Homo sapiens: one gene and its partner. The protein of the gene in region 2 interacts with the protein of the main gene of each other region in a pairwise test. Each region holds a gene or a part of one and is shown on either strand. Other genes may lie near its edges.

Region 1 (3,500 bases), on a different chromosome or scaffold from region 2:
GGGGTAAGGAAGGAGTACTAGTGAGAATTCTGGCTAAAAAGGAGCCCCCATTCCCTGTTTCCCAGTTCACACTTACCTCCCAGAAAGAGGTAGCTACGGCGCCTGGCATAGAGTGCACTGAGGGTGAAGCAGGTAAAGATCATTGCCGTGCCCATGAAAGCAGTGGGAAGGATGCTGTTAGAAAAAAAGACCATTAGATTAAGGGCTACAGGTATACGGTCTACATTTAGAAGGTATATTCATAAAGATAAAAGCACATAAGACACTACCAAAAGAGTTACCTGGGGTTGACAGCAATACAAAACTCCAGGGCAGGGCCCAGGCCAACTCCTAGAAAACAGAAAACCCAGAACACAGTATTACGATCAATTCTTGAATAGGATCCTCATCCAAAAGCTGATCCCGAAATATAGGCATACTCATGCTCTTAACAAACGTGGACTAAAGAATTAAATCTCTCTCCCCTCCGCTGTAATTGTTTTCAATAAAATGTATACCTGACTGCGTTGTTTTTTTTTTTTTTATAGAAATAGCTGCAAAATTGTCCTCTTAGCTGAAAATCATGGATGACCTCAGGGAGGGTACAGAGATTACAAGAAAATAAAGTAGGCATGCCAAACATTTCAGAGCTAGAGTGATGTAAGATGGTAATATAGGCCAGATCAGGAATTAGAAAAAAAGGATAAAGAGCAAAACAGTGCCTCGTGGCCAGCAACCTTATAGTCATGTAGGACTGACTCCCCTTTGTAGCAAAGAAAGGTGAGACTGGTTCTGCAGGTGGACACCTGCCAACAGGAGGGCAACCTGTTCCAGCTCTAACATTTCTTTCGTTCTAATTACTTTCCTCTTTCCTTCTGATAATTCCACCCCTTAATGCCTTCAAAAACTAGCTTGCCCTGATGCAAAAATTTTAATCCCTAAATCTCTTCCTTTCTAAAATTTCTCCTACGTATATTAGACTGTCACTCAGAACAAGCTGTTCTAATTCAAATGTTTTGCAAACATTTTTATTACATAGCTTGAGTCTTGTTTCCTTTATGACAATTCTAGAAGAGCTGTGCCTTTCTTTTTTTGAGAATCAGCAAAGTGTCCTGCACAATAGATCTCAATGTATAGCTTTAATGCACTGTCTGTAAGACTCAGAACAGAAGCTCCTATGATAATTGCCAGTATGGGTGCAACTATGTCGGATTCTCAAGTCTAGTTTATTAAAAGTTCTATGCCTACTATTAATAGGTTATGCTACCTAAGCTCTTGAACCTCATTCATTCAAGTACACAATGGCTATTTTTGGACACAAAAGTAGAGTCACAGTGGCTACTCACAGAGTTTCCCCTAATGGATGGGGAAACAAAATGAACCTATATGAGATTAGAAAGCAGGCCAGGAAGGCCAGGCACAGTGGCTCACGTCTGTAATCCCAGCACTTTGGGAGGCTGAGGCAGGTAGATTACCTGAGGTCAGGAGTTCGAGACCAGTCTGACCAACATGGTGAAACCCCGTCTCTACTAAAATACAAAATTAGGGCCAGGGGCAGTGGCTCATGCCTGTAATCCCAGCACTTTGGGAGGCCGAGGTGGGCGGATCACGAGGTCAGGAGTTCGAGACCAGCCTGGCCAACATAGTGGCCCATCTCTACTAAAAATACAAAAGATTAGCTGGCGTGGTGGTTGATGCCTATAATCCCAGCTATTCGGGAGGCTGAGGCAGGAGAATCGCTTGAACCTGGGAGGTGGAGGCTGCAGTGAGCCAAGATCGTGCCACTGCACTCCAGCCTGGGCAACAAGAGTGAAACTCAGTCTCAAAAAAAAAAACAAAAAAACAAAAAAAAGCGCTGGGTGTGGTGGCTCATGCCTGTAATCCCAGCATTTTGGGAGGCTGAGGCGAGCAGATCACGAGGTCAGGAGATCAAGACCATCCTGGCCAACATGGTGAAACCCCGTCTCTACTAAAATACAAAAAATTAGCCGCTGTAGTCCCAGCTACTTGGGAGGCTGAGGAAGGGGAATCGCTTGAACCTGGGAGGCAGAGATTGCAATGAGCTGAGATCTCGCCACTGCACTCCAGCCTGGCCACAGGGTGAGACTCCATCTTAAAAAAAAAAAAAAAAAAAAAAGCCAGGAGGCAGGGTACTATGGCTCACGCCTGTCATCCTAACACTTTGGGAGGCTAAGGTGGGTGGATCACTAGGTCAAGAGATCAACACCATCCTGGCCAACATGGTAAAACCCCATCTCTACTAAAAATACAAAAATTAGCCGGGCATGGTGGCACATGCCTGTAATCCCAGCTATTTGGGAGGCTGAGGCAGGAGAATCGCTTGAACCCGGAAGGCAGAGTTTGCAGTGAGCCAAGATCACGCCACTGCACTCTCTAGCCTGGGTGACAGACGGAGACACTGTCTCAAAAAAAAAGGAAAAAAAGGGCCAGGCACGGTGGCTCATGCCTGTAATCCTAGCATTTTAGGAGGCCGAGACGGGCGGATCATGAGGTCAGGAGATCAAGACCATCCTGGCTAACACGATGAAACCCCGTCTCTACTAAAAATGCAAAATATTAGCCGGGTGTGGTGGCAGGTGCCTGTGGTCCCACCTACACGGGAGGCTAAAGCAGAAGAATGGTGTGAACCTGGGAGGCGGAGCTTGCAGTGAGCCAAGATCAAGCCACTGCACTCTGGCCTGGGCAACAGAGCGAGACTCTGTCTCAAAAAAAAAAAAAAGAAAAAAAAAGGGGGGGGAACTAATTAAGAGATACTGAAAATATAGCTCACCCCTCAAAATTAGACAAATCCCTTAACGTACCTGTAAGGAATGCAAATCCAGCAAGAAGTCCCAGTCTTTTCTGTTCAGTTTCATGGCTATGAGGTGTTGCCATCAGCCAAATCATCAATATCAGGGAGCCCAAGGCAGACAGCAGGCCAGCCTGTTAGAGTCAGAATCAATCAATCATTAAACACTTGAAAGTTTCAAATTTATTTTGCAAGAGACCTTTATTGGGTTCAAACACTCGTCTGAACTTCCTAACATTTGCTTATAACCTGGAGGCAGGAGAAAAAGTAGTGTTTTCTCAGGGATGGGGCTGAGGAGATAACCCAGAAGCCTTGAAGCACAGAGTTAGGACCATGGTGGATGCTGGAGGCTCTTCTGGCTTGCGTAGTCCTTCAACTACAGTACAACTACCCAAGTCAAACTATGAGTGAGTCTTGCCCAAAAAATAGAAAGGATGAATGAAACGTGACAAGTGCTTAAAGTACATTCCATCTGTAGAACAAATAGAAATGATCCCCCTTTGGTCACTTTAAAAAAAACATGGTGGCTCACGCCTGTAATCCCAGCACTTTGGGAGGCCGAGGTGGGCAAATCACCTGAGATCAGGAGTTCGAGACCAGCCTGACCAACATGGAGAAACCCCGTCTCTACTAAAAATACAAAATTAGCCAGGCATGGTGGCACACGCCTGTAATCCCAGCTACTCAGGAGGCTGAGGCAAGAGAATTGCTT
Region 2 (3,500 bases):
CATAGCAGCAGCACTTGATCTGTTTTCCTGAAGCTGATTGGTCACCCAAATAGGTACTGCCTCATTCCACCAAAAAGGATCCTTGTCATTAGAGTCAGAAAAGTGTTTCTTTGTGACTGCATCATACATGGAATTAGCCACAATGCCATGGCTTTCTTCATACAAGCCTGTCACAATACTGTAGTGGTTTGGAAATGTTTTTGTGATAAAAACATTTTTAACATGCTCTACCAAAACACCTTCTTTGATAAAATTCTGGAGATGAGGAAATTCATAGTTCTTCAGATAATCAGCTCTGAAGCCATCAAAGGATACTAGTAGTAACTTAGGTGGCAAACTAGAGGAAGAGTCACTTCTAAAACCAGTTATAAGTCCAGAAAACAAAAGTATTACTAATAACTTCATAATGAACACGTTGAAGGACAGCAATCAGGGTTCCTAAAATGTAAAAACACAACTCATAAGTAGTAATTCTATTTCATTTGGGTTAAGTTTTAGAATTTTAGCCCACAGGAGGAGAGAACCAACATTTATATGCCAGCTTTACCTATATTAACTTAAATAATACCATTTATTTAAAAATAACTAAAAGCTAAAATTGGAAAAAAAATTGTCTTGTCCAATTTCCTATTTATATATATGCCCTACTCTATCCTTCATATGGGCCATTTTTATACTCCACATCAATACTCCTTCTAGGCTGTCAGCTCATTTGCCACATTAGAAATTCTTCGAAAGGCTTAATAAAAATAGATGCAGACACTAAAATGATTCTTTTGTAAAACATAACGTTAATGCCAAGCTTTCAGAGGCTCCAGAGATGATGATTATTTTTCCAGTTTAATAAATTGTACTTTATAGTTTCTTTAACCCACAGAAATAATTGGTGGAAATTCTACCATATTGGTTTATTGCCAGTTCTTGTTGAAAATATTGCTATAAAAAAGGGGGAATAAGAAATAAATGCTATTGAGAAAAAAGCCCCCATCAGTCTGTATGTGCCCCAATAGTCACATGAAGTTGATTAACAAACATGCAAAGCCTACATGGACATGGATGCTCCAGTAACTTATGAAGAAATCCAATAGCTATTGAAATGAGTTTTATTACCACATCCCTCTTAAACTTCCTTTTAGCTATCAACAACTATTTTCACTAATACCCTAGGCTTAAAGCTATCTCTGATTTTTTGTTCTTTCTTTAAATCAATTCACTGATGACAAAAACAGCTTTTCCCTAATAAATCTCCCTGCCTTTGCTCTCTATCTTCTTTGGTCTCTAAGAAAATAGGACATGTGAGTGAGGTAAAATGATTCACTTCAGATGGACAGGATGCCTCTTCCATTGTAACAGGAGAGAAGGAGCAAAGGTAGGGGAGCTGACAGATTTGAGGGCTGGAGGTGAAGAGAGTTGCCGGAGGTAGGGTCAATTATTGACAGGGAGTAGAATGGTAAAAGGTTCAGAGGTTTGAGGAACAGAAAGAATGTCTGAAATAGTTAATGTGGAAGATGGGAGAAAGTGTGAGTAAACAGTAGAACTGGAGTCAATGTTGACAGCTGTCATGAATTTTCATAGTGACACAGTTGACTGGTTTTCTCTAGCAACTCAGTAAACCTGGCACAGGCATGAACAAAACAGGCAGCTGATCCTACCTGGATTTGAGATTCTGCCAGAAACTGAAGGAAGACAAAGGAAGCTGAAGATGCTAACTAAAGAGCAGCTGAAATTGGGGCTGCAGCATCTAAGCTGAAACTGACAGATGTAAGTAAGAAGTAGAGAAGTTTTTCAACTAGAGGTTCTGGTGAAGTCAAAGAACTAATGAAGATTAGTTAAGAGTAACTTTTAGTGAAAGTTACAAAGATCTGGGATTGCAGTTAGAATGCAACAAGTGAATGCATTATTTCAGACTAAGAAGACCCTGAACATGGTAACGGGTATGCATGTTGAGGTCCCAGGTATGAAGAGCAGCAAGTTAACTAATATGATTATGAAGTTCAGGAGTCATTTATTGTGTATTCTCTCAAGTAGACTGGAAACACTTTCTCTCTTTCTTTCAAACATGCCACCTGGAGGATCTGCGTACTTGTGGTCAAATACTGACAGAGGCTGTGATCCTCTGAAAAACTGACTTAAAATTAGGAAGACCAAAGGCACAGAATCTGATTTATGAGGATCTTGGGGTCTACAAAATCTCTACTATTTTAATCGGAGACAGGTTGCCTTCTGAATGTGGTGCATGGAACATTTGTTCCTGGTGCTCCCTAATAACCAAAACTAATGCAGAGTAACAAAACCACCTCTCCAAAAGACAGAGTAACAAACCTAATGAGTGGTAGAGGAGGCATATGGGTATTTCCACAGACACAGCCCTAGTCATAGCACAGCAATTTCAGCTATCAAGAATCTAGACAATGGTACTTACCCGTTCATTCAATATTTTATGCCCTCAACACAGTGTTTATGTATGACTTAACTCCTCCCTCAGAGAGTTTTAACTGGGTTCAATCAGATGACAGTATCATGTGGGTTGCTACAATTTTAGAACTTGTGTCAAGGGCATGCAGGTCTCCATGAAAGCTTGGATTGAGTAGATTCCCTGGTTTCTCTCTGGGTATAGTTCCCCATATCCAAATATTTCTTTCCAATCACAGAGTAGACTTTTAAATCAGCAAATACGGCGGCACAGTATCTTCTCACAGGGAAAACATACTCATAAACTTAATTTTTGAAAAACACTATTTACTGCTCTGGCTCTTTCCCTGTGTAACTATTTTATATTCCCAACCAATCCTATCCCACTGCACAGCTGTTCTGCTGCCAAATCCAATCTGATATGTGTCAGATGGAATGCATTCTCTATACCTCCAAATCTTTTCCCCCTTCCTTAGTTCCCAACCCTTTAAAACAGCTTCGCCATTCTCTCAGTAACAAAGAGATCCCCTGAGTATATGATCAGTTGCCAGTCTAGTCAATTCTATCTTCGTATCATCTAATACAGCATATCAGACAAAAGAATCACTGAAGGGAGCTTGTTAAAAGTGCAGCTGTCAAGTCACTATAACTAGGAGATTCTGATTCAGTCAGTCCACAGTAGAGGCCAGAAACCTGCATTTGAAACAAGCATTTTTAACAGCTACCCACTCATCCATCTCTACTACTGCTATATTTTTTAGTCCTCAATACCTCTTGTCCAGAGCACTTTTGTCTCTTAATTCACCTTTCTACCTCAACCACCTTCCACTTTCTTACCTCACACCTGCTGCCTACTCAGTCTCTCTGGGCACAGCTCTGTTCATGTTCCCTTAATTTAAAATATATTCAAAAGGCCCCCCTGCCTATACAAAAAGCCCAAATGCCTCAGTCTCACATTGAAGCCCCTCCAATATCCAGGTCCAACTTGCATGCAAATTACTGTGAAATAAATACAGAAATAACTGCCAACTTGAATTTCCATTCACCATACTTCATTGCCATGGTCTTTCTGAAATGTATTACAACAA

What was found. Proteins that work in one complex are often made in the same cells at the same time.
Region 1: the proteins of ENPP4 (region 2) and TMBIM6 interact in binary tests that used the Homo sapiens proteins (3 or more experiments, as listed by UniProt).

The regions. Positions count from the first base shown.
Region 1 is NC_000012.12:49,755,057-49,758,556, reverse strand, and holds part of TMBIM6 (bax inhibitor 1), read right to left. Parts: intron 2,923-3,500; coding exon 2,802-2,922; intron 331-2,801; coding exon 282-330; intron 175-281; coding exon 77-174; intron 1-76. UniProt on the Homo sapiens protein: Endoplasmic reticulum (ER)-resident protein that confers cellular protection as an anti-apoptotic protein by limiting multiple stress-inducing pathways surrounding the endoplasmic reticulum and mitochondria.
Region 2 is NC_000006.12:46,136,489-46,139,988, reverse strand, and holds part of ENPP4 (bis(5'-adenosyl)-triphosphatase ENPP4 precursor), read right to left. Parts: intron 439-3,500; 5' UTR 406-438; coding exon 1-405. UniProt on the Homo sapiens protein: Hydrolyzes extracellular Ap3A into AMP and ADP, and Ap4A into AMP and ATP. Ap3A and Ap4A are diadenosine polyphosphates thought to induce proliferation of vascular smooth muscle cells.